Regions from separate parts of the Homo sapiens genome. Here region 2 is linked to region 1. A link means that fine-mapping ties the variant in region 1 to the expression of a gene that starts in the linked region. Tissue or cell type: whole blood. Region 1 holds a variant in brackets; the other region holds the start of a gene. All regions are shown on one strand. Distances are between the middles of the regions.

What was found. PIP is the estimated chance that this variant, and not a neighbour inherited with it, causes the effect.
Region 2: it holds the start of LINC00221, and the variant in region 1 is fine-mapped to the expression of LINC00221 in whole blood (TOPMed, PIP above 0.99).

Annotation. Positions count from the first base shown.
Region 1 is chr14:106,515,813-106,531,694 of GRCh38, forward strand. It overlaps IGH, the pseudogene IGHVII-46-1, the pseudogene IGHV3-47 and the pseudogene IGHVIII-47-1. Among named protein-coding and RNA genes, the nearest start is that of LINC00221, 41 kb to the left of the region's middle. The variant T/C (reference allele first, on the strand shown) is at 6,477.
Region 2 is chr14:106,473,616-106,489,497 of GRCh38, forward strand. It overlaps LINC00221 (long intergenic non-protein coding RNA 221), which reads left to right and starts at 8,824. Exons shown (of 3, transcript NR_027457.2): 1 at 8,824-9,022; 2 at 15,153-15,346. It also overlaps IGH, the pseudogene IGHVIII-44 and the pseudogene IGHVIV-44-1.

The DNA of each region.
Region 1 (15,882 bases):
CACCACCACTAGCAATGGATTTTATCCATTGCAGCCCCTCCCTGAGAGCCGGCAGATCCAGGTCCACTAGTAAGGACTGGTTGTGACGGAGTGGCCAGTAACAGTGTAGGTGAGGCAGAGGGTAAGTGTGTGCTATTCAGGTCCAGGGCTGACTCCTGCAGCTGCTCCTGGGACAGGGCATGTGATTACATGGAGAATCAGTCCCTGTCAGTCACATGTACCTATCCTAACCCGATAGACCCATGTCTGACATCTGAGACGCTCACCTTCAGGACCTGCTACCAGGCACAGGAGAAGACACGATAATGACATCTTCCTTATGAACACAACTCTGCATTCCCCAGATACCTTACCCCTGCCTGAGGGGAGAGCTGTTACCTTCCACAGTCCAAAAGCATTTTATACCCTGGAGCCTGAATAATATTTTGGATGTGGCAAAGCCTTGTGCTTATAAGACAGAGGGACACAGGTCAGACTCCCCATGGATTTGATATGTTTTATTGTTGTCTGTTTATTTACAGGTTGACATGATAATGTCCTTGCCAAAAACTACAGTCATGACAGTTCATAAAATTTGCTTTATTCCTGTTTTCTTTTTTTTTTTTTTTGAGATGGAGTCTCCCTCTGTTGCCCAGGCTGAAGTTCAGTGGTGTGATCTCGGCTCACTGCAAGCTCTGCCTCCCGGGCTCACGCTATTCTCCCGCCTCAGCCTCCTGAGTAGCTGGGACTACAGGTGCCCGCCACCATGCCTGGCTAATTTTTTGTATTTTTTAGTAGCGATGGGGTTTCACCGTGTTAGCCAGGATGGTTAACCTTGTGATCCTTACCTTGTGATCTGCCCACCTTTATTCCTGTTTTTCCACCTGTGACATTTGAACTTCTGTATCAAGTGAGCAATGTGCATACCTTACAGGAGCAATTACAAAATAACTCTCTAAGTCATCACTATTACACAAATGCTACCCTGTCCTTACTGACAAATGTCTCTGGAAAGATTTAAGTAAACATACATCATAAATTGCTTCCTTAAATTAAAAGTAGCATAAGGTTCAGAAACTCATGAACTCCCTTTGCCAAAGGTACCTCCACTAGAACTTACAACCCATGGTCTCCTTCCTCAAGGACACAGACATTCTCATCCTATGACTTGATTCATCAAAAGCCCATGTATTTCCCATTTTACCTTCAATATTATACTCCGATTCATCACATGCTGATACAGCAAAGTATTTTAGGGGATTGAAGTGCCATGTGGAAACATTCAACAGAATGTTAAAGATGCCTTCCCATTACATCTTCCTAAATAGCTTCTTTACTGCTGTCCACTTGGAAATTCTTTATTTTAGAAGAGACATCAGAGAAAAACAGCCTCAAATATTGTGAAAGGGGCTAATGACCATTAAGAACAAATGCAGCAGTGACTCCAGGATGTGAATCCATAGGTTTACGCAGTGAAAATGAGGTGGGTTACATAAGTCATTTTGAGAGGATTATCCTGTGCTCCTAGAATCAGGACTAAGGGTGGCATCACTGTAGGGTTAAACAGGGAGTTGCTGGGAAGATATCCTTGTAGAAGTGATTTTTGTAGGACTAAGGGTGGCATCACTGTAGGGTTAAACAGGGAGTTGCTGGGAAGATATCCTTGTAGAAGTGATTTTTGTAAGGTTGTGGTTTCTTCTATCCAAGGCTGTGGTTAAGCAGAATCCATTTACGGTAGTTCTTGTTTTCTGGAGTATATGCATGAGAAACTTCTTCATGGTCATTCCTAGTTCCATTTGTCAGGGTGTTAACACAAGTGTTTCCATTTTTATTCTGACAACTTTCACACCCTCTTTCTAATACTACTGGTGAGGAAGTTGAATCTGTGGTTGTTTGTACAGCACAGGATAAATTTCACATCCACATCCCATTTTGTCCACGCAAGCTCATCCCCTTCACTCCTGTTGTCCACATTCGTTCCCAGGTAGTCTCCACACAACACACTGGAGGGTGCTGAGCAATGGGAGAAGAGAAAGCCCCAACAGCCACTCCCATGTGGCTGCAGGAGCCACAGCCTGAGCCCCGCCTGAGCTGCAGGGAATGGGCTTGAGGCTTGGGGCTTTTGCAGCAAGAAACACCTCCCCATTTTACAGGGAGCAAGAGAAGTACGAGGAAAAGCAAGAACAACAACAAATAAAAAGAAATAGAATGGTTTAAGAGCAAAAGGGGACCCAGATCAGTGCTGATACTGATTTGCATACTTTAGTGTCAGGAGAAGGAGAAGGGTCAGACGTGAAACCTGTGAGGTTCTACATGACACTGACCCTGTCCCAGCCTCTCTATTGGCTGGTATCAAAATTCCTGAAGACTGATCTAGTCAGGGAATCTCACAGAGGTTTCTGTCCTGAGTCTGACTGGAGAAGATTCACCAGGCACCCCTGAGTTTCCTCAAGGCTGATCCTGGTGACCATGGTTGAGGACTTTTCATCTCTGTAAGCATCCATCTGCATTTTGTGCATGTAAGAATAGGTTCTCATATTAAAATAATCATTAAAAAACATGTAGAGATGACACTGGTAAGCACAGAATTCTGAACTTAGAGAGGTTCCCTAGAGAAATGGTAAAAAGACGAAGTCCCACACCCTGACAGGAAATCAGCCTCTGTGTGCACCTGCCTCTTGGGCTGACTCTGATCAGTGGCTCCTGAGCGCCCCCTGCAGCTGGTTTCCTCCAGCGTTCCTGCAGGGAAGTTTGTATCTGGGCTCACATTGACTTCCCCTCACTGTGTCTCTTGCACAATAATACACAGCCATGTCCTCAGCTATCAGGCTGTTCATATGAAGATACAAGGACTTCTTGGCGTTGTCTCTGGAGATGGTGAATCGGCCCATCACGGAGTCTGCATAGTATGTATCACCACCAGTACCAATAGCTGATACCCACTCCAGACCCTTCCCTGGAGCCCGGCGAACCCAGTGCAGAGCATAGCTACTGAAGGCGAATCCAGAGGCTGCACAGGAGGGTCGCAGGGACCCCCCAGGCTGTACCAAGCCTCCCCCAGACTCCACCAGCTGATCCTCACACTGGACACCTGCAAACACAGAGACACCAAGGTCAGAAATTGCCAAACATATCCACTGTTTCTCTCACTCATGTAACTCACACTCAATCTCTCTAGTTCTCCATGAATCACATTTTAATATAGCAACAAGGAAAACCCAGCTTAGCACAAACTCCCTGGTGAGTCCTGTGTGTTCAGTCCTGATCACTGAATGCAAACACTTGGGAATCCCAAGGCTGGGGCTCCTCTCCCAGAGCAGCAGGGTCAGGGGTGGGCTGGTTTTCATCCAAAAATTACGGAGACAACTAGGGGTCAGGCAGATAAGTTTTTGGTGTATCTGACATTTAATGTATTTATTTGTTTCTTCCTATCATCCCTTTTTTGTATAAAATGTCGGCTGTTTACTTGTAATAAATTTTATGAGTTTTAACTGACAGATGATAAAATTCACATATTTAACATGTGCAATAGTAAACTTTGAAAAAATAATCTCTATTTTCAATGAGGTAACAAGTCAACTCCCCTCAGCATTCCTCTTGATCTTTTATATTATTTGTTTTTTCCCCTTCCCTTTTTCTACCATTTCTTTATAAACTACTGATGTTTTCATATTTCTTTAGACTAGTATTTATTTGGTAGAATTTATAAGAATGAAATAATATAGTATATTCGCTTATGTATTTGGCTTATTTTTCTCAATAGAAATACTGAGAATTAAACCATTTATGTTATATGTGTTTATTTTTTTATAAAAATTGGTAGCATTTCGGCAAACAAATGTAGCGTAATTTGTTTTTCTATTAAGTTGCTAATTGATATTTGAATTTTTTATTACATTGGGTCTTACTAACAAATCTGCTACTCAGTTTGGTAATGTACAAAGATGATCAATTATACATAAATTATATAAATATATTTATTTTTGCAACAACAATAACAGATAAACAAGATAATGTGTTATTTGGCAGATTTCCTTTAGTATTTCAGATAATTGAAGTTATGAGATAGAAAACATACTTATAAACCAAAGAGTATCTGAGACTAATCTCAATAGATTTAGGAAGTTCATTTTTCCAGGACTAAGGACATGCCTGTGACACAGCCTCAGGGAGTCCTGATGATACGTGCCCAGTGTGGTGGGACACAGCTTGGTTTTACACAATTTAGGGAGACATGAGACATTAATTAATATATGTAAGGTATATTTATTTAGTTCAAAAAGGCAGGACAAATTGAAGTTGGGGGGAGAGCTACCAGATCATAGGTAGGTATGAGAGAAATGGTTGCATTATTTGAGTTTCTGATTAGCCTTTAACTGAATGCACAGTTTACAGGAATAGTCACATAGGCCTTAGTCTGGCTTAGTGAAACAATAGAGCAAAGGGAGCAATCAGATATGCATTTGACTTACGTGAGCAGAGAAATGACTCTCTGCTTGGTCTACAATGTCCTTGGTCAACAAGGATTTTCTGTGCGGTCAAATTTTGAAGGAGATATGTAGCTTGTAAACACCTTAACAGCTATCATTTTAGGGAAAGAATGGAAGGTGGGTTTGCCCCAAACAGTTTTCAGCTTGGCTTTTCCCTTTGGCTTAGTGATATGAGGGTCCCAAAGATTTATTTTCCTTTCAGGAAAATGGAAATTTTGGGAGAAATGAGTTCTTGTAGAGAGAAACAAAGCCATAGTGTTAGCTAAACTGAGGCAGAAGTTGCCATGTGAAATACAGCCTATTACATGTATTGGATTGCTTAAATTCTAGGGTGGTAAACATGTTGCCGTGTGAAATTCTCAGGAACCATATGCTGAAGGGCACTGATAAAGTGAATTAAATATGGCCTGAGGAGGACTCCGTACTTCTATGTTTGAGTCCTTGTGGACAAACTGTAACCTACCTGAATAGGTGGACGAGATTGAAAACCTAACTCAGGAGTATGTACCTGAGCACCTCACCAACAGCTGAGCGTTGGCCAATTTCAGCAGCCATACCTCAACCACTCATACACTCTTGAGTGTGCAAACTGTGTTTAAATAAGACAAACATCAGCCTGTAACCAATCCAGCTGTTTCTGTACCTCACTTCTGATTTCTGTACATCATTTAAAAAAATGTATAAATCTTCTTCAACCACATGGCTGCACTGAATTCTCTTTCAATCCGCTGTGATTCCGGGGGCTGCCCAATTCATGAATCATCCATTGCTCAATTAAACTCCTTTAAATTTAATTTGGTTTGAGTTTTTTTTTATCAGCATTCTTATCCAATTGAATTCCTTTGTTCTAGAATGGGTGCAGTCAGAAAAATCTTATTTTCCCAAAGTGTCTGTCTGAGAGAGGAGAGCCCATACTTCTGAAATGCATTCAGACCCACCTCCCTCATCTTCACTACAGAACTAAGGAATCACCCTGCAGGGGCCAGCCACTGAACCCATTATTCCAGATGCACTGGTGGAGCCCCAGAGGAAATGGGATAAAAACCGAGGTTCTCACCAAAGTTCCATTGAAATGCACCTCCTCTCTGTCGTGGAATCAAATCCTTAATCTGCAGGGCATGGCAGCAGATCTAGAAGGTGATGGTAACAGTGGAGAATATTGGAGCTGTGGGAGGGAACAACTGGGAAAAACAGGAGAAAATATACATATTTAACTCTGTGGACTTCAATCTATTTACATGTTAATTAGGTGGAATATTTCATAGCTAAAGACCTGATCTAGAATGAGAAATAGTAGAGAGATGACACATGGAGAATGCAAGAGTGGGAAGCTGAAGTTCAAGTTCTGATATTTGTTTACTGATACTTGTCTCCTGGCATGTCCAGAACTTTATGAGTACAGAACTCCTCTAATAGAGAAACAAACTCTCACAGGACATGGTCCTCAAAACGATCTCACCTTCAAATGGCACATTAACAATCTCAAACTTTTTTGGTTTTACCCTTTGCAAGTTGAACTCCTGGTATGGTGTGTCTGTCAATATTTGCACACATTTAATTGATATAAATATATTTCTTCTACATCTTCCAACTATTAAGATATATGAAAAGTCTAAAATTTTCTCCTTTCAAATTGGGTCCTCATCACCTCATTGGGTTAGGTAAATGCTTCAAGTATGATGGGGTATGTAAAGACGCATTGTAGTTTTTGCTAAATTTTTTATGTTTTATTTTATTTTTATTTTCAAAAATAAAGATGAAGCCTCACTATTTTTCACAGACTGATCTCAAACTCCTGGGTTCAATAAATCTTCCCACCTCAGCCTCTCAAATTTCTGGGATTATAGGTGTAAGCCACTGTGCCTGGACATTAATTACTTGTTTTAACTTTTTAATTGCATTTTTGTTTTGAAATAAGTGTAATTCAGGTGCTGGAAAAATTTTCTCCTCAGACTCCTCTGCAGCAGCTCCAGGGCTGACATCTGTGTGGAGTGGGTTCTGGGCCTG[T/C]CCTGCAGCTCTGCCCTCACCCTGCAGGGGAGGATGCTGTTTGGGCTCACAGAGCATATTCTCCCAATGTCGCTCTCCAAGAAGAAAGGGGCAGTTCCCTGGTTCACAATCCTCTCTCAGCAGCATCTAATGCTTTTGAAATTGTCTCTTGAAACAGTGATTTGTCATTACTATACCCAGTAAACTGCAGGGAGAGCCCAAGCATAGATTCTATGAAACCACCAGAGAGTCTGTTCCCTGGGACTGTCAGATGCAGTGACACAGTCAAGATCCATGGTGAGTCCAGAAACTTTCAGAGAACTCATAGGAGCTTCTTATTTCTTTTAGAATTCTCTATTCAAAGTCACGCCAAATAGCATCTCCACAGAGAGAACTACATGGCTCAAAGCTCGCAAAAATTAAAACACACATGTACACACACACACACACACACACACAGACGCACAGTGTACTATGGCTGATTTTTACAATAATTGGCTCCTGATTTTGGATTTTGCCTAGTGTAACCAAAGGTTTCTGAGAGAGCTCTCAATCAAATTAAAATTAATTTTTCCAAAGTTATGGCATGCTTGGAAGAAAAGTAATCACAGAAACAATGCGTGGTTAGTGCCATTCCCAAAAGACATTTTTTAGGGCTTTCAATATATAAAGGGGAAAAGCTGGCTAGAGGGGAAAGAGGAATTGCATGAAAACTTACATGTAGTAATGAAAAAGAAGCACATAGGGAAATAGAATATCAAGTGGTTCTCCTGCACTAAGTATTTCAAAGATGAACAAATTGTAGCTATCTGTGAAGATATCTAACATTTTATCTGTCTGTGGCTATTTTCTTAGGAATGAAAGGAAAATCAGTTTCTTGCATGGATCATCCTTTAGTTTTTTCCCCCCTCATGACGTAATGAATTGACATCATAAGTTTTTATTTTCATTTCATATCTTCCCAACTTTTTCCTTTCCAAAATATTTCAGAGGAAGCATTTTACCACAAAATAAGTTTCTGGGCTTCTGTTTTTGTTTTTGTTTTTTTCTTTCATGGGTAGGACGGATTATTTCTAGATAAATAGGTCCCAAGTTGTTATTATAGTTCATTGTTACCTATATTTCAAATGTTGTGAAGTTTCACATCCATTAATAAGAAAATAGTGGGAGAAAAAAGAGAAGTAAAACATATAAATAAAGGAGGAAATAACAAACAACAAAAAGGGGAAACAATCCTGGAAAACTGATATAGGCCTTGGAACTCTGAAGGCTGAACATGAATAAGGTAAACGACAAATATCTGAGACAGGTCTCAGTCAATTTAGGAAGTTTACTAATGTGGTTTGTCTGTGTCGCCATCCAAATCTAACCTTGAATTCTAGTCCTGCAGTTCCCATGTGTCATGGGAAGGACCCAATGAGAGATAATTGAATCACAGGGGCAGGTCTTTCCCATGCTGTTCTCATGATAGTAAATACTTCTCATTAGATCTGATGGTTCTGTAAAGAGGAGTTGCCCTGAGCAAGCTCTCTCTAGTCTGCCACCGTGTAAGATGTCGCTTGCTTTTCTGACAAGATTGTGAAGTGTCCCCAGCCATGTGAAACTGTGAGTCAATTAAACCTCTTTCCTTTATCAATTACCCGGTCTTTGTTATGTTTTATTAGCAGCAGGAGAACAGACTAATACGTTTATCTTGCCAAAGATAACTCACCCATGACCATCCTCAGGAAGTCCTGAGACATGTGCCCAAGGCGATTGAAGTACAGCTTGCTTTTATACATTTTAGAGAGACATGAGACATCAATCAATATATGTAAAATGTACTTTGGATTTTTCCTGTAAGGCAGGACGAATCAAAAGCACGGACTGCAGTTTAGAAGTAGATAAGAGACAATAGGTTGCGTTCTTTTGAGTACTTTATTAGCCTACCACTGAATGCACAATTTAGTCTGACTCAGTGGATCTTCGTTTTTACATAAATGATAGTGAAGAGGAAGCAATCAGCTGTGTATTGGTCTCAGGTTAGCCTCAGAGGAATCACTTTAAACAGAAGGGGAGGCAGATTTGCCCAAAGCACTTTCCAGTATGGCAGCCTCGTTGTCTGGAATACCACCCGAACTTCTTTGTCTCACGGCCGTGAATATCAAGGTCGCAGACATGCTAAGGGTGAGGTTAGAGCACAAGTTTAATAGGTAAAATAAAAAAAAAGCTGTCTGTCACAGAGAGGGGTCCCAAATGGGTTATCGTGCTGCAGTAAAATGTAAGGATTTTTATAAATGTGCTCGTGGGGAGACGGTGTCTTATCAGCATAGGGTGCAAAAACAGTTAGGACAATGTGTGCCATCTGCATAGAGCAAAGTCTCTGGCAACCCCACCTCATGCTTTCATTGGGCAGGCGGGCACTTTGCTTGATCTCCTCCACACTGCTTATCTTCTTCCACCGTGCATGTGCTAAGAAAGGCCAGAAGGGTTTTCTTGCCTGGTCCCAGGTACTTCCTCACAGGTGCCGGCGTCGCAAACCCCGTGCAAGCTTCCAGCTTTTCTATCTTAGTGTACTCCCAGAAAAGAAAAGGAATGTGCTTATTAAGGCTCACTGTTTTTACTGGGACCCATCCTATATATGTGAGGTTTGGTGATTACACCCAGAAACACCCTCTCTGTGGCAGAGTTGCTTATCTATATTTCACAGCCTGATTATTTAGTCTGCTTTTTGTTAGAAGTGATTTCTTTGAACTGTGTGTAATTAGAGAAGAAGTTATTTCTGAGCTGATTTTTGTTAGAAGAAAAGTTATTTTGCCAGAGACTCTCTCATCCCAACTATCTACCTAAATAATTTCTTTCTATCTCCTGTAACACCACATTGACTCTTCTCTTTAGCTTAGTAATTTTGGGGTCTCAAGATTTATTTTCCCTTCACAGTAGGAGGGTATAAAAGGAATTTTTGTATATAATTAAGTTGCTGGTATTAGACAATTTTCATGCTGCTATAAGGACATACCTGATGCTGGATAATTTATTTAAAAAAAAGGTTTAATTGTCTCACAGATCTACATGGCTGGGGAGGCCACAAGAAACTTACAGTCATGATGGAAAGGGCAGCAAACACGTACCTCTTCACATGGCTGCAGGAGAGAGAAGTGTCATGTGAAGAGGGAGGCCCTTTATATAACCATCAGGTCTTGTGAGAACTCACTCACTAATAGGATAAAAGCATGGAGAAAACACGTCCCGTGATTCAATTATCTTCACCTCCTTCCACCCTTGACATGTGGAAATTATTACTATACAAACTGAGATTTTGGTGGGAACACAGAGACAAACCATATCATTGATTTTATTTTATTTTAGAGTTTAAGTTGACTAGCTGTAAGAAAGCACAGTTTACCTTCTGGAGATTTCAAATAGGAAAAAAATATTTAAAAAGAAAATCACTGAAAATGTTATTTTGGAGACTTGTGGAAAGAAATATTTTAAAATTGAGTCCAAATTGTAGAAAATATTGTAAATTGAAAAACAAGTGGACAAGGTTAGAACCTAATAACAGATGCACTATAGTTTATTTTGAAAGAATATTTCTCCCTATAATTCCCCAATTTTATTGGAGACAAAATCATAATAGGACTAATTTATTTGTAAAATAAATTTTAGGCTTATTATACTTGGCCTGATTTTTTTGTATAAGATGCAGCAAAAATAATCACTTAACATATTAGCTCTCTTTTTATTGTTTTTGTTTTTGTTGTTGTTTGTTGTACATAGGCTGTTTTATTCATACATTGCTTTTGCTATTTTTTATAAGGAATCTAAGGGTAAGATCTTTAAAAGCCTCAAGCCCAGCCAATATTTTATCTGTGCCATCAGATAGCTATATGGATTGGTTTACTTTTTATTTTTTCAAGTATCCAAGAAAACTTGGGTTTCCTGGGCCTGTCAGAAAGCAAAATTATTTACTTACTACAGCTCAGGGCCCTGTTAAAAAAAAAAAAAAAAGGTAAAATGCCAGTTTTCCAAAGGGGCTTATATCAGCTGTACAGCTCTTCATTTTATAAAGTAAATCAGAAAATATGTCATTCAAGTTAAAGCCTTGGTAAAGTGACCATTGTCTCTAATTGTGCTCTGTTATGGAAGAAAGCAGATTTTTATCGAACCTATGCAAATAACTATTTTGATATAAGAATACCTACAGTTTCCAAATTTTGGAGAAATTATGTAGAGAAGAAGAAATTATATTTTCAATTTTTCTCAATAGAGTATAGTTAAAATTGTTAAAAACTGTGAATAGCTTAAAAGACAAAGTTTTCTTGATTCTGAACAATAAAACATAAGTAAATAGCAAATGCTTTAAAGAATAAGTTATAAAAATTATTTCAGTCTCCTTTTCATTCAGTTCATGCAATTACATCCTGTCCTGCTTGATATTAGATTAACAATCATCATAAATGCTTCAGGTCTCATGAGACTCATGGAAGTTTTTCTCTCTATACCAAAGGCACAATTTATAAAATTGTCAAAATTGTATATTGTATATTTAAGAGTACTACTCAAAGTTCTATAGATTATTATAAGCCACCTGATAAAGAATCAAAGTAAAACAACAATTGTGAATGACCGACCTTTTAGAATACCCCTGGTTAAAGACAGAATTGAGGAGAAAATTTGGTTATTTCTGTGATAAACAAAAATTTTAAATTATAATCATAAGTACTACTGATACTAAGACATATAAAAATCACTTGAATCTAATAGAATTTTGGAACATATACTCTTTACATAAGTATATTCAAATTATATAGTCCACATTTATATAAATATAGTCCAAAGTTAATAACCATTGCAAATTTGACATTACTTCCTGTATAATTTAACTGTACCAAATAAGCTAAATGTGTTTCTTTTCAGGGTGTTCAAATGACTGAATTTAGAATTTTATTTTGTGAACTTTGTCAAATATCAAAAGTTTACAACACTTGATATTACAAAATAGGATTACAGATTATTGTAAAATAAGTTATTTATTTAGCCACATGAAAACTCAGTGATTTCTAAAAAAAAGAAAAAAAATATTTTTGAAAGAGTAGAATTGATTTTCTAAAATATAACCCCTTAGAAGAACAGCATGAGAAAAGTTAAAACTATCAATTCTGAAAAATAAATCTATTAAATTATAATTACTTTTACCATAAAAATAATTTGCATAGATCTTTTATACAGTTTTATCTGTTTTTTAAATTTAAATGTGGATTAATTCTTCAAGAAACCCTGGTCAATCTGGCACAGGGGCCCAGATGCTAGCCTTGCATTAATGTTTAATTTATAAAGAAACTCTGAACCGATTTCATCTCTCAAAATTAGCTTTTACAATCTTACAAAGCCACTTCTTCTGTAATAGTCCCTGGGGCTGGGGTGGTTAAGTAGTTTCAATTTCTGGGCTTGTGTCTTGAGAGTGTGATCAATTTTTCTTGTCATTTTCTTCCAGGTCTGTAGATGGGGCTTTAATTGCTGTCGGTGTTTAAGATTTAGCTGGACTTGGTGTCCTTTTTATTTTTTATTTTATTTATTTATTTTTTCTGAGATGGAGTCTCACTCTGTCACCCAGGCTGGAGTGCAGTAGTGCAATATCTGCTCACTGCAACGTCCACCTCCCCGAGTTCAAGCAATTCTCTCTGCCTCAGGCTCCCAAGTAGCTGGGATTACAGGCACCTGCCACCATGCCCAGCTAATTTTTGTATTTTTTAGTAAAGATGGGGTTTTGTCATGGTGGCCAGGCTGGTCTCTAACTTCTGACCTCAGGTGATTTGCCCACCTTAGCCTCCCAAAGTGTTGTGTGTCCTTTTTAGACCTAGGATTCAAAGCTCAGTAAAGTAGCAGCACAAGGACTTTAAAAGTTATACAGATAGTTACATGAATGTCATAACATTAATTTCTATTGTCTTAAACTCTCAGTATTACTAAGTAGTTGAAAAACTTAATAACACTTACATAGGAATTATTTCAATGAAATTTAAAATTTGTCTCATGCCAGTTACCAAATAGCAAAAATAAAGCCTTCTGCACTGTGACTGTTTTTTCCTATGGGGAACTCCATGTACATAACCTGCAAGTCAACTCTAATGAAAAAAGTATTTGAATTAATCAGACCTAGGAAGAATGTGTCTTTACAAGTGAAGATTTTGGTTTCATAGAAAAATTTAGACAGTTAAAGAAAAGCCAACGACACTGAATATTATATTGAAAGAAAACATTTTATTTAGAACTTTAAGATAGAGGATTTTAACATCAGGAAATAATAGCAGTCAGAAACTAACAACAGTTAGAAGTTAACTCAGAGGCTAACTGCTGTAAGTAAGAAACAATGTTAAAGGAGCTGATGAAAAAGTTGAGATCCTCTCAAGCCTTCTCAAATGGAAAAAAATAAAAATGGCAAGATGCAACAAAAGTTAAAATTTTGGGTTAAAAAATTATAATACCTTATAATTTTATTGAATAAATCAATACTTTAAGACAATTTTGTCATTCTAACCAATCTTCAGTGTGTTAGTATATTTTCATATGAAAGCCAGATCCCTATAAAGACTATAATAAATTCTTCCCTTTCAATTATAGTCAACTCGATAACATGAAGTTTTTTTAATAAGTTAGCTTTCTATAAACCTTATTTTGACTTACACGAACCATTTATGGCATACTTGAACATCTTGTTTTATTCTAAACATTATTCTTTCATAAATAGTCACTTTTATATATAAAAAGTTATCCTACAAAATTCCCTCTCATATAATTTTTTTTTATTTTAACCTTTCTTACCAAAAGTACTTCTCTATGTCTAGAACTTTCTTTAAACCTCTCTTATTAACTGGGTATGTTTATGACATTTTATAATTAACCTTTGAATTAAATAAATTATTTTTCTAAAAACAAATGTTTTCAAAAAATATTTTCTTATAATATGTATTTTTAAAAAGTTTTCCTTATAGTATATATATTTTAAACAATTAGTAATGCATAAACATTTATATAATATATATTATTTAATTAAACTTTAGATTTTTAAATTGTAGAACAAGTTTATTTAAATGGTTTATTTTATTTCATTTACCTAATTTATTTTTTAAATAGCTTACCTAGAATATTTATGAAAACTGTAATACTTGTCCATTAAAGTTTTTCACCTATTAACCATGTTTATAACCCATGAAATTTAGGTGTTTACCTAAGTAAAACCTTATGATTAAGTAGATGATTATTTTTCTAGTAGCTAAGTATTTACCTATTTTTTTTTATTAAAACAACAATACTGAACATCTTGTTAAATTACAAAGATCAATCTGGTTTTAACTAGGTTTTTAATTTTATAATTTTATAATCTTAAACAGCAGGTGTTTAAAAAAAGGGTTAGATGTAAACAGTGATTGTTATCTTAAAACCAGTAGAAAGGTCCTGTAAACTGGAAAACAAAATATTTTAAAGCAAAAAATGTATCTTCATCTTTCTTTATAAACTTCACCAAAAGCTTATTACATGCTCTTACTATTCTAATTCTTAGTAACTCTAATTCATAGTGAGAAAGCTAAGATTACTTAATTTAACATAGCAAGACTTTAAGATTTTAAATACTGACGATAATTATGAGACTAAATTTACAAAATTAATATTTGTAAAGCAATGTAAAATTTAAAGCTGACTATACAAACACAGATGTACTTTTTTGTTTACAAAGTGTTTCATTAAACAGACTTAACTTGATTGGTGGTCTTTGACATACAGCTTAATTAGATGACTGGTCTTGGATTGGAGGCATTTAAGAAAAAGGGCCAAGAAAACATGCAGTTTTTAGGGCATAAACTACAATTATTTATGGAAATGTGCAAAGAAATGAGTAGCCTTCTATAGTGATGATCATTTCCTGCTAACTGCCCTCAGCCACCCCTAACGTAGCTTTCAAAGCCACCCCTAACATTGGAGCTTTCATTCACTATTGCACACACGAGGAATGAATCCTCTCACAGTGCAGTGTAATTCTGGTAACATCCGAAACCAAAAACATTACATAATCCAAGAAAGCAGAGCTTTATACCTGAGAAGAATCTACCAATGTTTCTTGAAACCACAAAGGAAGGAGAAAAACTCCCAAGAGTTTAGTGGCAAGATCCAAAAGGAAAACACCCTTCCTGCCCCAACCCAGGGGCCTGATGTGGAGCTGCCTGCTAAGGGAGCGGTGGTGTCCTCAGTGGCCCCTGGTGTCCTGAGCATCCCCTGGTGTCCTGAGTGCCCCCTGGTGGTTGTGAGGGACCCCTGGTTTACTGAGCACACCCTAGTGTCCTGAGAGCCCCTTGCTGTCCTGAGCACCTCCTGGTGTTCTGAGCGCCCTCTGGTGTTCTGATCACTCTCTGAAGGTCCTGAGCGCCCCCGGAGGTCCTCAGCACGCTCTGATGTCCTGAGGGCCCCCTGGTGGTTCTGAGCGCTTCCTGGTGGTTCTGAGTGTTCCCTAGTGTCCTGAGCGCCCCCTGCAGTCCTGAGGGTCCGCTGGTGCTTCAGAGCACACCCTAGTGTTTGAGTCCCCTGGTTTCCTCAGTGCCCCCAGATGGTTCTGAGAGCTCCCTGGTGTCCTGAGCACCGCCTGGTGGTTCTGAGTACCCCCTAGTTTCCTGAGTCCCCCTGGTGTCCTGAGTGCCCCACGGTGGTTCTGAGCGCCCCTGGCGTCTTGAGTGAGTCATGGTGGTTCTGAGCACCCCCTGGTGTCCTGAGCACCTTCTGGTTTCCTGTGCACCCCCTGGTGGTTCTGAGAAGCATCTACCATGCAGGGAGGTTTGTGTCTCCCTGCAGGCAGGTTTGTGTCTGAGCTCACACAGATGTCCCCTCACCGTGTCCCTCACAGTAATAAACGGAATTTTCCTGAGCTCTCAGGTTAATCATCTTAAGAGAGAATCATCTGAAAAGCGTGTCTCTGAGGACTGTTAATCTTCTTTGTACTCAAGGAGAGTCCCACTGAGAACTTCCACTTGAATTACTGATGTTATCACCTACACCCACCCCTGTCATGAAGCCTGCTGGACCAAGCTTATGCTGTTTTCAGTGAAAGTGAATCCACAGGGTTTCCAGAAAAGTCTGAGAATTCTTGGTCTGTAGTATTTCTCTGAGAGACTCCAGTAATTAACTTCACAGGGGACCTCTGCAAGCACAGAAGCAACAGACTGAGAACAGCCCCCACGTGGAGCAGCCACAGTTCACTCAGTCTGTTTAACGGGGAACCTCAATATTGAGAGTGATGACAAGTGAAGCCCAGATCATCATAGACCCGATGGTGTGGACACTGAGGAAGGGCACAGATATTGGGTGGCTCCTCACCAGGACCTGCAGGAGAAGAGGGGAAGAGCTGCTTTTCATTAGCAGGGAGGGGCCTCATTTCCATGTCTTTCTCCTGGGGACA
Region 2 (15,882 bases), 42 kb before region 1:
ACCAACATGCAAGCCATGACCATTCCAAATTCAGTATGTCTATACCTACAAGTGGTTATGTTTTTCTATTCATTTTTCTTTTTTGAATGCTGATTATCTTAGTGTGTGTAAGGTGGTAATTCATAGGGAACTTAATCACCAGCATAAACCAAATAACCCCATTAAAAATGGAGAAAGGACATGCACAGAAACTTCTCAAATACAAACATAGAAGTGGCCAACTAACCTATAAAAATGCTCAGCATATTCAGTCATCAGATAAGTGCGAATCAAAACCAAATGATATACTTTCTCACATATGTCAGAATTGCTATCACTGAAAGATCAGAAATTAACAGATGCAGGCAAGGCTATAGAGATAACGGACCACTTACACACTTTTGGTGAAAATATAATTTGGCCCAAGAACTGATGAAATCAATCTGGAGATTTCTCAAAGAATTTAAAACAGAGCTACCATTCCCCTCAGCAATCTCATTACTGGGTATATGTCCAAGAGAAAACCAATCATTGGAACAAAAAGACACATCAACTCACGTGTGTATCACTGTGCTATTCACAGTACCAAAGACATACAATAAAACTAAATGCCGATCAGTTACAGACTGAAAAAAGAAAACGTGGTACTTATACACAGTGGAATACCATGCAGCTGTAAAAATGAATGAAATCATGTTTTTGCAGCAACTTGGATTAAGCTGGAGGCCAAAATTCTAAGCAAACTGACAGAGACAGATGATAAGAGTCAATGGGAGATGAAATGGACAATTTGGGTGTTTCTTTGTGTAAAAATGAGAAAAGAAATCCCCTGGTTGCATGAACTCTAGAAATAGACAAGCCTGGAGATGCTGATGTCCTGACTTCCATTACATTAGGTTGTGCTTTTTCTCATTTTTAGTCAGTTAACCTTGCTTTCCTTCACTCTTGCCTAAAATAGCCACAGATAATAATCTAGAGACATTAGAATAAAAATAACATATTTGAACATTAGAACAAGTGTTAACTTTTAGATCAAAGTTAGCGTGAATTCAGTGTGACAGACAGGAGACATGGCTGAATACTAGCAGTGTGCTCACAGTAATACTATCTAAATTAGGAAAGTTTATTCACATCTTTTAGATTAGATTCCGATTGAAATCCTTGATCTAGTATCATCTCTGATGAATCATACATCAGTAACGAAACTGGAGGTTATGCACTCAATTCAGTAGTACATTCAGAATCTGTTCCTCTACCTGATGTCAAGTCAGCCCGCATGACAGAAGTTTTATTGTGGTCAACAGAGCTCATCAATAAGCCAAAGACAAGGATTAAGTACATGTTTTACAGGAGTGCCTGACTTTGGGATGCTCTTCACGCAAAGAAGTTTCTCATATCTTCTGGAACACGTAAAAATTCTCAACAAAAGAATAAATTTTAGATGCACGCCTATATTTTAGGGAACTGATTCATGTAACTTAGAAAGTAAAATCCTAAAGGAAAATGAAATGGTGTAACAACTAAAAGTATATATATTGTAGTGGGTCATTATACCAAACAGTCTTCTTTATAATATTATCTAAACACAGAAGGCATTAGAATTACTTATATAACTCAGCATCATTCCCATCCACAATCTTCTGAAAATGTTGAAGAAAATTGTCATACTTGAACTAAACTTGTCAAAACCTTAAGAAAATCTTGAACTTCCTTGGCCAAAGTTTCTCTCCCTAGCACTAGAGCATTATAGTCAAGTCCCTCAGTGAGACATCAGTCATCACCTTATGATTTGGTGGCTGGAAGGCCCATACATTTAGAGATTTTCCCCCAGAGCTCACCTCTTCCTATTACATGCACGCATGACAAAGCATTGAAAGTGATGACTGTATCTTACCCACTCCAGTCATCGACAGATTAAGCTATCATTTTCCTACATCTTTTCAATAGCCTCTAATGACATTAAAACAGGGAATGGTATTTACTGGAAGAAACATCAGGGTAGGATATTGCTCTTGAACGGCTTTGAAGGGAATCTTACCAGGTAATTTTAACCACAACACAGCAGTGAATATGCACAATGTCAATACTAGGGTTCATATTTATGAACTGTAAAACAAAAATAAAATCCTAAGTGCCCCAACTGACTAAATAGTCCATCTGTTCATCTAAGGGACTCCAGAAAAGCCTAAAAACTGAGATCCCAGCCATGACAAGATCAGACGCGCCTCTTACACTCACTCCCCTTTGCGGTTTAGACACAACAATGACCAACACTAATGTTAAAATAGAGATCAAAAGAATGACAGAACAGAATCTCTGTGGCAATAAGATGTCAAATTATAAACAAGACCTAAAGCCATGTCAGGCAAGGGTTCTGCCACTCACTCCCACACTTAAAAGGTAAACTGTCTTCTAACTGCCAATAGGTTATTCGTTTTCTCTAGCGGCTCAGTAAGCACCGGCACTGAGACAAGCACTATGAAGACAATTGCAGCCCATCCCCTGATGAACTGACCCCTGTTCCACAAGCCATAACCCCAGCTTTGATTGAACACTAGAGTGATATCAGGACCTTTCTCCTGATCAGAGACCACTCACCATGGCCTGGCTCTGGCCGTTTACAGAGGCTGCACCCTGAGTGCCTTTGTGTTTCTGCTTCTGCTATTGGCACATAGGGCCTGACTGTAATGAATTTAAATGCTAAGTCTCCACTGGTAAGTGAACAGGGGTCATACGTTACAGACATGTTTGTTCAGTATGCATGTGTGAGGACCACCTCCATGAACATCAGTAGCCCCTCCTGTAACCTGTTGATTATGTCTGTTTAGCCAAACCCTTCAGCATAAAGCTTCTGCCCAACCCCTTCTTCCTGGGAGTGCCTTTCTCTCGTCTTTACCAAAAGCTATGCTTTCCAGCATATGGGATGGCTGTAAACCTTGATAAAAATAAACTCTCACTTTCCTAAATTGTAGATTGTGTTTTTTTTTATTTAACACAACTGAAGATTAAATTCAGAAGTACATCTAATTATAAGGCTACTTTAGTGAAGAACGACAAACCGAGGATTTTCACATATACTGTAAGGGCCTGTGATATTTTGAAGCAGGAAGCTGACCTGAGACCTTCAGAATTAACTGATAACTGTGGATAATGAAAAGGCCCCACTCAGGACATTGATTCAGCACCCCTGCCTGTCTCATTCATTCTTCTCTTTCTTTTTATTATGTGCTTACAGTAATAAAATTTTTATTTTCTTTAGACCTGTTTGCTTTTCACACATAGTGGACTCTTCTCTCTCTTTTTCACTCATTTTCTTAAGCTGCTAGGGAGAATAAAGCGTCAGGTCCTATTTTTGGTGCCTCGTTGCTGACGAATTAAGGTTTATTCTTCCTCCTCCTTATCCCCTGCATGTGGTAAATCTAGTAAGAAATCACAGAAGCTCCCTTATCTGATGCCCCTGTGAGGTTTAAATCACACAATCTCCTTCTCCTGAGTAGAAACGCACCCCCAACCCCACCACCAAATCATTATAAAGCCCTGAGCCAGCCTCCTTTCCTGTCTACTGAGGAAATTCCAGTTTGAAATTTCTTGAGAGGCCTGTGCTGCTCTCAGCAGACACCTCAAAAATAGAGTTAATAAATGTTTTCATATTCACCTGGAGTGTGAGTGTGGAACCATCAGACTCGAAATCCACACTAACCATTGGTGGGGTCTCTCTTCCTTTGCCCAGTATCACCTACAATTGGAACTGTGGGCTTGGAGTCCTGACAATGACCACCACGGGGGCTTTCTTCTCTTGCACTGGATGCTAACTCCCTCTGCCCCAATGCCCAGCATGCACTTTATCCTGCCTGCTTGCTCACTGGCCCTTGGAGTTCTGTTGAGCTGGGCTGCCATGCTGAGTTAAACACCGCACCTTTTATAGATTTAGCTGATTAACTTCAGAAGCATTGACACCTTATTGACATTCAGAAACAGGAGTAAATGACTGTAGGTGACTCTGCCTTTGGTGCATATGAGAAAGTTTTTCTCTTGTTACGACAAATGTTTCTTCTTCAGACTTCACAGGAAAAAAAGGATAAGGAATCCAGAGATGTGCCACAAAGGAAACTGTTTTATGGAGAGGAAGCCACAGGGCTGACAGGAAACCAGACCTTAACACCCCTCTGCACCTGCCCTGGGGCTGGCTCTTGTGCTCAGTGGGTCCTGAGCGCCCCCAGGTGGTCCAGTGCCCACTTCAGGGAGGCTTGTTTCTAGGCTCACACTGACTTTTTTTCTAATTGTTTTCACAAAAATGGAGACAGAGTAAACGGTGAATCCATGCATCTCAGAGAACACAGAACAATAGCATAACACCCCTCGACACACACACACACATTTAGGTGAATCTTATTAAAACTGCTGAAAACCAAAGACAAATAGAAATACATGCAGACAAGTGGAGATGAGTTGAGGGGGCATTCCTTCTAAAAGAACAGGAAAGATGATGACAGCATTCTTCTGGTTAAAACCTTATAAGCAAGAGGAAAATTGATGGTGTCTGTAAAGTGTTGGAAGAAAAGCCAACCCATTATTTTGTAACCCATGGATGTTCGCTAAAAAGTGAAAAAAAAAAAAAAAAAAGACTCTACCAGCTGCACCTCATACTGCACACCTGCAAACACAGAGAAATCCTGGTCAGCAACTGCCACACATATCCACTGTTTCTCTAATATCCACTCACAAACAATATCTGTAGTTCTTCATGAATCACCTCTTAAAATAGTAACAAGGAAAGCCCAGCTCAGCCCAAACAACATGGTGAGTCCTCTGTGTTAAGTTCTGATCACCAAGTGAAAACACCTGGGAATCCTGGCACTTGAGCTCCTCTCCCAGAGCTGCAGGGTCAAGGCTGGGCTGGTTTTCATCAGCAGAGGGAGGGAACTATTTGCATGTCTCCTACTATATAGAAGTCTCTTGGGCAGGATGTCTGAGGACAGGGCAAGGCACAGAGCAGATGAAGTTTTCTAGTGGGTGGTGGGGCTTGAAGACAATGATAATATTTGGAAAAAATGTAATTTCTTAGTAAAAGATTGTGCTGTGGTAAACATTTAGCATACATTATCTTAACACACGAAAATACATTGTTAGAGGCAGATGCCCATTGGTCCTCCATTTACAGATGTGAATGTAAACCCAGAAGCATGAGGGAGCTATGAGATGTGTCCTGGAGCTCACATGTGACAAGAATGGGCTCCAGGATCGGGACCTGTGCTCCTCTCCACCGGATCCCACAGCTCCCTTAGCCAACTTTATCCCAGAGTTACGCATACCTGGTGTGGTTTGAAGAAACCCTTCTTGTAATAAAAACATTAAAAAAAACTGCTGCATTTTAGAATTACCAAAAAATAGAGATAGAGCTAAGGGTTATTCATTGTACATTCAGAAATATCTGACTTTTTATGTGATTTATCCATCTCCCTTACACCGTCCCTAAGAAATTTATACAGGTATTTATTTGTAATAGCTTGAATAATATAAAATTCTAATTAACACACAAAATGTACAATTTGGAAATTATTGATGTAACCATCACCATTATTAAGATAGAAAACAAATCAATTACCCTCAACATTTTCTCTTATTCTCTTGCAACGCCTTCCTCCCTCTTTTCTCTCACCTTTTCTCCATTCAACTCCCGACCTTCATGTCACTTCAGTTTCTATTCTGTAGAATGTATAAAAGTGTCATCATACAGGATGTAGTTTTTTTTTTTTGGCTTATTTTACTTATATGTACTCGTGAATTTAGTGCGTTTATGCGTGTATCAAACGTTCATTAATTGTAATGAACAACAGTATTCCAATGATTGATTTTTTTTTTTGTTTTTTTGAGACGAAGTCTCGCTCTGTCGCCCAGGCTGAGTGCAGTGGCGCAATCTCGGCGATTCTCCTGCCTCAGCCTCCTGAGTAGCTGGGATTACAGGCGCGCACAACCACGCCCGGCTAATTTTTGTATTTTTAGTAGAGACGGAGTTTCACTATGTTGGTCAGGCTGTTCTCAAACTCCTGACCTCATCATCCACCCGCCTCGGCCTCTCAAAGTGCTGGGATTACAGGCGTGAGCCACCGTGCCCGGCTGAATTTGTTAAATTCGGTGTTTAATCTGACATCCTTCTGGATTTGCTCACATTGGAACGTAAAAGAAAATAATTTCCAAGACTTACGTGTAGCCAAAACAAAACCAAAAATTTCCCGTCTCTAAGCTACACCTACCACTGGATTTTTAACTGAGGAAAGATGAGCCTGAGAGAAATCACAAAAGCAGCCAATTCAAGGAAAAGCCATTTATCGTTCTCAGCTGAACTTAAGACCACAGTTACCACGAAGGCAGCTTCTCCACCTCCGGAGCTCAAGCGATCCGCCCGCCTCGGCCTCCCAAAGTGCTGGGATTCCAGGCCTGAGCCCGGCGCCCGGTCAGCGAAGGCAACGTCTAAAAAAACTTCTCACCTCCTGTCACCATTTCAGTGACAAATTCCCGAGTTTTCAGAGGACATGCCGAATCCAGCACAAAACACTGACTCTGAGGAGCTCCCGACGCCGCTGGCGCCTCAGCTGGCAGCAGCTGCTCCAAGTTCGAACCCGCGGGCGGTGGCGGAAGGGCCTTCTCGCGGGCGTCGGGCAGCAGCTGCAGCCCTGGGCTCGGCCGCGGCGGCTCCGCGTCCTTCCCGGAGGCGCCGGCGCGAGGTCCTCACACCCAGGCGGCTCAGTGGAGGCGCAGCAGCCCAAGGAGCGCGGCCCCCAGCGCCCGCGCCCATCCTGGAGAACTGCATCTGCGCAGGCCCAGAGCGTCCTCCTGGAGCAGGCGAGCCAGGATGGCGCCTCCTCGCTCCCAGCAGGCGCCCCCACGCGGCCCGTGCGGAGCCCAGCGACCAGAGCCGCGCGAGCCTGTGGGGAGCCTGTGGGGAGCCTGTGGAGGCCTGGGCTCCACCGCCTTCCCCACAGCCAGCAGCAGCTTGTGCCGCCCGCCTTCCCCTGGCCAGGTCTTCCTGCAGCTGGCGCCGGAGGCTGCGGAGGGAGGGCCCAAGGGTTCTTTTCAGAAGACTGGCTTTTTATGAATTTTAACACAATATGTACAAGCTGCGTTCGTTTAATAACGCTGCTTCCGTCATACACTGGCAACTTAACACCTGAAAAGATTAGATGTTATAAATAGGACTTGTTCATCCTTTATACACAGGATATCCATAGATAAATAAAACAAACACACAGACAGAAGAGATGATCATTAATCTCTCCTCCCGGTGCGCACAGAGGCCTGGAAGTCTGCACTTTCTCCTCCTCTCTCCTCCCCTGAACCAGAGCACAAACGCAATGTGTGTTGATCAAGCAGGGATTTGGCCATCCTCCCCACCCCCCACCAACATCAAAATAAAATAAAACACTGCATATGAATTTTAACAAAAAGATATTTACAAAATTTATTATTTTACCACCTGTAATTTTAACATACATCAGGCACTTCAGAACATCTAGAAAGACTAGATATTTCAAAAGAATACTTAGAATTTCCAATGATGTATACAATAGCGAGGAATAAAACGCACACAAGAAAACAATGACAATGATATGAAAATGTCTTCTAAATATGAGCAGCCTGGCATGGAACCCTCTTCCCTTCCTGCCCAGGTCTCCCCTCCATGTCCTCTCACCCACTGAACGAACGTGGACGTGTGGTTACTGTGTCCCTTCCAGGGGTGGTCTAATAACACCATTTCAAAATGTCATTTCCAGAAGACACCCCTTTGCTATGATTTTTTTAAAAAGCACATGGTAACTTACGGCCAGGCACGGTGGCTCACACCTGTAATCCCAGCACTTTGAGAGGCCAAGGTGGGTGGCTCACCTGAGGTCAGGAGTTCAAGACCAGCCTGGCCAACGTGGCAAAACCCCATCTCTACTAAAAACTACAAAAATTAGCCAGGCGTGGTGGTGCACACTTGTAATCCAAGCTACTCGGGAGGCTGAGGCAGCACAATTGTTGAAACTCAGGAAGCAGAGGTTGCAGTGAGCCAAGATCCTGCCACTGCACTCCAGCCTGGGCGACAGAGTGAGACTCCGTCTCAAAAACAAAAAACAAAAAAACGAAAAAAAACGGAAAACAAAAGACAAGCACATGGTAACTTACAAGACATGTAATTTTCTGACTCTGTCATACATTTGGGAACCTCCTTATATCTAGGCGGATTAGATGCAGCAAATGTTTTCTTTTAAAAGGTCAGGGAAAGGTCGAGCGGAGCTTTTTCATGTGTTACGCACAGGCCTTCTAGAAAGGGCTGGTAAAGTGTGGTGGGCATGTCCAGTGGGACAAACTTGGAAGGTTCTTCTCTGTTTCTCCCCATCCATGTCAAGGTCTTGTAGAAGAACGATCACCATCCGGTGGCCGCTACCCGTTCCCCACATCGTCTTCCAGGACTCTACTAACATTTCTTGCCCTAAGGCCTTTGAACCTTGCCAGGACTGGCAGGGTCCCTTCCAACATGGACAGGAGTCATCCCAGGATTCGGAGCTTCGGGGCTGCATGGCCTGAAGAGAAAGCGGATCTAAGTCCTAGACCCCGCTTCCTGGCGACCCCACGCGTCCCCGGAACTCCCACGTCCCAGCTGCCCCCTCGCATCCCTGGACCGCCCACAACCCGCCAGCCCCCGCGCGTCCCGGACCACCTGCATCTCAGCTGCCCCCGCGCCTCTCCAGACCGCCCACGTCCCAGCTGCCCCCTGGCATCTCCGATCGCCGACGTCCCGCCATCCCCCGCGCGTCCCCGGACCGCCCACGTCCCATCAGCCCCGCGCCTCCCGGACCGCCCACTTCCCGACAGCCCCCGCGCATCTCTGTGGCAGCTGCTCCGTGCTTCCCGCCCCGCCGCGCCCGCCCACCCAACGGCGCTGTGTCCCGCCGGTAGCTCAGCGGGGACTTCCTTTATGTGGTACAGGGTTGGGCCTGGAGACCCGGATGCCGGCGAGGTCCTGGCTGGGAGAGGCCGCCGCTGCCTTCAGGTTTCCGAGGTGGGTAGAGAGGTTCCCGCTGCTTTGAGGTCAAGGCTCCTCGGTGGCAGCCACAGCAAAGGCTCCAGTGTCCGCCGCAGGGCAGAGGCCGGGCCTGTCTGGGGACCCCCGACTCATCTGAGGCTCAGGGCGGAGGGTCCAGTGAACTGACCTTGCCCCGCTTCTCACCACGCGCCCAGTGTCACTGTATTCAGCCACCACTGCACAAAGGCGGCACAGCTCTGTGCCCTGAGAAGCCCCTCATTCCCTCAGTGACTCCACAGGGAACACCGGGTGGGCCCCTGGATTCACAGCCCTGTAGCACGCTGCCCAAGGGGCCCCCTTGCTCTCCCACCACCCAGAACACCGAGCCCGTTGTCAAGGCTGAACCATCCGCGGGCAGCTGGGACCAGGGAACATGGTGAGGGGCTCACGGCACCTGGCGTGCAGATCCCAGTAGCTGGATGCGGTTCTGCTAATCACTAACAGGCTTGCAGGCTTCCCCAGGAATCCACCCATAAACTTCACAGAACACCGTGTCTGTGAACCACCCAGTATGTGCATTCAGTTTCTAACCTCACTCTGGTCCGGAATCTGCCACCTGCAGGATCCAATTAACAAGAGAGAGATCTGGTACAAAGATTATTGTATTAACCATAATGGTAAAGGGGAAGTGACCGCATTCCCATCCCAAGCAACCACTTGAATTTTGAAGGAAAGGCAGGGGTTTAAAAAAGGAAAAGTTGGTAAGAAAGGCATGCAAGATTTGGGCTGAGAACCAGGTCTGTGCGTCTTGTTCTGGCGGCTCTCTGGCATCCCAGTCCACCTAGATCTTGGGCTGGCATCATCTGGGCAATGCCTGGGTTGTTAACTAGCAACATTGAAGTCACCTCTGGAATTCTGCATCAGGGTCTCCCGACTTTGTCTATCTGTCTCAAATTAGCTTCCGGAACTTCCAAAAAGGCACATAGTTCGATGCAAACATAAAGTTAGATTAATGTGAAGGGAATATTTATGGTGAAAGGGAGAAAGGTGGAGTCTATTTCAAGGCGTAAGAAAATTGATTCTGCTGTTTGCCTCAAGATTATATCTTTACACCCAAGAGAGACAGAAAAGTTTAACCTCTCTTCTGCCACCATGTATGACTGCCTTGCTTCCCCTTTTTCTTCTGCCATGATTATAAGTTTCCTGAGGCGTCCCAAGCCATGCAGAACTGTTTGGTGTGGAGATTACTGAAGAAGGGTTTTACTTACTACTTGACAGAATTCCCCTTGGTGAAGAGGAAATGTCAGAGATCTTTAATTCATGACGATGTTGGATTATTGGCAGTTGGCTCACTAAGGATCCCATGTCCAAGAGCAGGATTCTCCTTCCAAAGTGTGGGTGTGGACTTGAGGAGCAGCCTTTGAAAGATGGGGCCCCTAGAATTTATAGAACTTCCTTTGATTCCTTGGAGGTTTGCAGTCTCCAGGTTGTCTGTCATCCAGGACTTTGACTGTTTGTGTGAAAGAGTGCTTCCTTTTGGGTGAAGAATTCTGTATGAATATCCTAGGGCTGCCAAAATGAAATACTACAAACTGGGTGGCTTAAAAATGACAGGACTGTATTCTCTCACAGTTCTAGAGACTAGAAGTCCAAAATCAAGTGTGAGCTGGGCTGCACTCCCTCTGAGACTCAGGAGAATTCTTCCTTGCCCTTTCCTCACTTGTGGAGGTGACTGGTAATCCCGGACATGCATTGGTTTACTGCTGCACCACTCTGATCTTTGCCTCTGCTGTCATATGGCACACTGTATGTCTCTGTCTCTGTGTCCAAATTTCCTTGTACTTAGAAAGACACCCATCTTCCCACATTGAGGGCCTGCCCTGCTCAAGTAAGACCTCATCTTCACTAATAACATCTCCAGCTACCATATTTCCAAATAAGGACGTGTTCTGAAGTGCTGGTTGTCAGGACTTTGACATATCATTTGGGTACACAGTTTAATACATGACGAACCCCGTTACAGAGCTACCATGTCTAGTGTCTTACACATTTTGTTTGGAGGGGGAGGGTAAAAATAACAATGGACTCCTGTGTGTTCTCTGACGATAGCAATACCAATAGCTACCATGTAATGCCTATTAGTTGTTAGGTACTAAATATTAACTAATTTCATTCTTACAACAACCCTACTTTACATATGAGAAAACTGGGGTACAGGAAGTAACTGGCCCATTGTCCTCCAGTTAGCAGTGGCAGAGACGGTATACAAAGCCAGACTTCCCAGCTCCAGAGGCCGCATACTTAATACCACCCTGCCTTCTGGACAGTCAGGACAAGCAATTATGCCTGTGGTAAACATACTGTGCTGACAAGTAAGGTTACACTTGAAATGTGGCTTACAATGCAAGGTATAGAGATTACAGGCAATTCATGTGTTCTGGTTATTTGTTGCTATTAAGTCTGAATTAAAATGTAAGTGTGAAATTTCAGGTTTCAGGGAGTATAAAAAATAATATTAAAACCTCAAATACTAAGTTTAAAATGCATTTTGAAATTAAGCTGCCTGTATATCATTCCCCACTGTCAAATTCCATTTCGTTTCTATGGAAAACATGTGTCATAGTCATTCTGGCTACTTCTTTAGAAAGGGCATAGGTTGTATGTATTGGAAGGGAATCCATTAAACTGGAGTTGGAAATATTCTGGAGTCTCCGGAATTACAGTAGGTGTTTGTTGGAGCATTATGGTGCAAGGACCTAGGAGTTTTTGAGAAGGTCAGTATTACATTCTCACTTAAAGTGCAAGATAGCAATAAAATCCATAGCAATTGAAGATAGCAATGAACAGAATACCAGCTCTACTATATATGAAACTCTTCCATGTGTTAGGAAGTCAACTAAACCATGCTGTCATGGGGTTCTGAGAGAGGGCATCCATCTCTAGCAGAAATATGGGTATCTAATGCTTGCATAGCTTGAGTTATATTGTGGGACTAATCTTGTATATATATGCAACATTCAGTGTTCATTAATACACAAGTGTTACCTTTGGCTGTAGTTGCAATACCTAGGGTCATATAGCTTCATAGTGTCACTTGTCAAATCTGTGAGGTTTCTTCAGTAAGAATGATGATGGCATGGTAGGTGTTGTTAAAGGGACTGGTGGTTTGCTTAGCCAGGGCCTCTACTTGCAATTCTAAATCTATGACTGCCACCTGGGGGGAAGAGCTGGCTAGTGGGCAGAACAACTAGGATGTCTGTTTATGTCAGTAGTGTCTGTCTTTCACACTTTTCCAGTTGACATAAAGAGAATGCACTTTGGACAGTTACATCCTGGGATATAAGGTCATATCCAGTTGCTTCTTTTAGTCCAGTTGTAAGGAAAGTAGGGCCAGCCATGAGTGCCACAGGCTGTAGCTAACCCCAGAGGGAAGAACAGATTCCACTCTGCAGGCTGGCATTGCCTTGTCATCCCAGCCACATATTAAGGGCTCAGTTACATTGCTAAGGAGGCAACAATTCCATATCATGAGTGACAGTGTAGAGTATGCTGTGGTGTTTCTTCACACATAGCAGTGCTTGACCAATTACTTGGATTCGCACCACTGTCAGCCATCCTACCTCACTGGATATGGCATAGCCTATAGTGGGAGTGATATTAATGAAGTGTCTTCTGTTTTTATAATAGATGGAAAAGATGGCTTCTCCAATGGATGGAAAATCATAAATTCTTACGTTGGGAGCTTGTATTATGCCAGGGCAGGCCTATAGTGGAAGAAATGGGCAAACTCTTTACAGAACCAACTATGTTTTCTTTTGCAGGGAAGCCACCATCTTCCACCCATTCAGCAAAAAAGATTAGTTTTAATAAGGAGAAATAATGTACTTATAACTATAGAACTCATTAAGAATTTTATATTAACAGAAGGGTATTACCTATCTGTCTTCTTGTCTCCTCTTTATCAGCAACTTCAGGTTTTCCTTAGGCTTATGTGACCAGGTAGTCTGTTATCTGGGGTCAAATTGAGGTGGGACAGGTTTTTTCCAACAGCGATGCACCCATGGCTTTACATTGGATAACTTAACTGAACAAAGGTTAATCAGTAGCACATCATGGGGTCTGTTCCACCTTTCAGTCAGCTGCTGATCTTGTTTTTGACTTTTACAAGACTGTAGTGGCATCTTGTCTCTTGGATGGAAGGGGTGAAGAGGCTCACTGTGGAATAAACAGGCCTGGAAATAGCAAGCTGATGTGCAGTTAGCAAGGTCTGCACCAATCTGCACATATGGTTTAACTCTGGGCTCTTTTACCAGCTCTAAAGGTGCTGTTACTGGCAAGAGGTCTGGAAGGGCCTCCTATATATAATTTCAAAGAGACTTTTCCCAAGCCCACTTCAGGGCACCGTTCTGCCCCAGAACAAGGCAATAAGAAAAAATCTATCCCAACGCAGGTCAATTTCCTGCCTGAGTTTGGCTATTGTCTTCTTCAAGGTGTTATCTTTTATTTCTTTACTGCTGACTGTGGTCTCCATGATGACTGTGGTTTCCATTCGATTTGCAGTGCTTGACTTACCTTTTGAGTAAACTCTGAAATAAAAGAAAGATCGTTGTCACTGTGTATAGTGCATGGGAGTCCAAACCTGGCAACGATTTCCTTGAATTATGCCTTAGCCAGTCATGTGGCTCTTTGGGACTTGGTGAGATATGCTTCTACCCATCTTGAAACAATATCTAGAACAATCAGGAGGAATTTATAGTTGCCACTGGCCACAGGCATGTGAGTGAATCCACTTGCCAATCTTCCAAGAGTCACAGTTCTCTGTGTTGTACCTCTTCGTTGCAAAGATTTTGTTCAGTCTCAAAGATATTTTTGGCACACAAAACACACTCGTATGTGACTTTCTGAACAGTTTTCTGACCATTCTGACACATGGTCATACAAAGTCTGCAAGGGAATCTCATTTGGAGTGTGTGCCCTCATGTAAATGTTTTAAAATTGTAGACCAGGGCCTCGGAGAGTAAGAATAATCCATAAGCATTAGTTTTTCAGAATAAATCTGGATCTGTTTTACCAAATCCCCAGTCGCAGGCATGCTTCTTGTCTATTTAGTATAATGGAGTTTGAACTATGGAAACTCCAGATGTGGAATCAAAGCTCATAGCAGGTGTGCATCCTGCACTGCTCACTTCTCAGCCTTTTCTGCAGTCTGATTTCCTTTAGGTGCCAATGAGTCATCTTTTGGGTGCTCAGGGCAATGCATAATGGAGGATGAGAAGGATGAGAACACACCTCTAGTAGTTTAACACCATTTCTATTGGGTGTTTAATGTCCTTATTTCCTGATGAGACAAGGCCTCTTTCTTTCCAGATGGCCCCATGAGCATGCACCACCATGAAGGTGTACTTAGTATAGGTGTCAATGTTTACTCAACTTGGTGAGGGTGATTAGCTCAGGTTTCGGACCAGAGGTACTGGCAGAAAGGGCACAGGCTTCTATTATCCAGTCAATAGTTATGATCGCACAACTGGCTCAGCATTTTTCCTCCTCCATGAAACAGCTCCCATCAGTTTAAATTTCCCAATCTGGAGCATTTATTGGCTGGGCTTCCAGGTCTGGGCTGCTGAAGTTGACTGCATCAAAAAATTTCAAACAGTCATGCACTAAATCAAAATCAAGTGCTGTAGCTGGGAGCAGAAATTTAAAATTACCTTTATTTTTCCTCTATTGCCTCCCCAACATGAATCCATCAGAAGATACATCATTCATTATTTCAAAATATATTCTACATTTATATATCCAAAGAAATGTTACTGTGGAAATATTTCATCAGATCTTCATCATGAGACTCTGTGAGGGCAGAGACTTGGCCTCACCTCCCATTAGCTCCACTCCCACACTGGAGAGCTTGCAGTCCTGAGCCTGCAGAAGCTGAGCTGCATGGCCAGCTTGGCTTGAGTGAAGGAGTGGATGTGTGTTCCCCTCCACATGGGGTATGTGAGCCTGAGGGTCTGGGAATTAATATATTCCTAAAAAAATACATCCTATCTTGTATATGGTGGGTTCAGGCTTTCTGTTTGTTGATCTCGATTCCCCTGAGTGATCCCCATCTTTCCAACTTTGTGGAAGACAAAAGTGAAATAACTATTGGGACAATTCTTCTCTACAGACAATGGAGACTCTGAGAACATCCAGAAATATCCACAGGACTGGCGAGGCTGTGGGCTTTCAACCACCACGAGAGGCTGTTTGCATATGATTCTTCTAAAATTGACATCAGTGAAATGCCTTGAAGATAATAAAGTGTTGAAGAAATAAACAAAATCAGAATATATGGGATCAGTTAGAAAGCTCTTATTTAAGGTGAGTTTATGAAATGAGGATGATTGCACTTGTAAATTCTTAGAATTCTTAGAGTGATTATGTAGATTACAGTTATTCCAGTACCTGGCCCTTGGTAAGTTTTGCTTTCACACTTATGATCTTTTTCCTCCAAAATGAAAGGTACATCTGTTTCCATAGTTTAAAAATATGTCTGTGTCTGCCTGGCTTGTCAGAGGTTTACAAGGCATGGAGATTAAAAGCCCTTCCCTGGGGAGGAGCCCTGACCCCCACCTCCTGTGCCTGACCCAGTTCAGTGGTTCCTAAGTACACCCTGGTGACCTGATCCTTCCCCTTGTGGTCCCAAGAACCCCTGCAGGGCAGGTTTGTGTCTGAGTTCACTCTGGATTCGAGTCACAGTGCCTTGAGCACAGTAATACACGCCTGCCTCCCCAGCCATCACACTTCTCAGCTGTAAGTTTTCTTGTTTTTTACTATGTGTTTCTGGAGATGCTAGCTCTGCCCTGAAGGTTGGGGCTTAGTGTTTCCCTTAACCCATATCACACCAACACACTGAA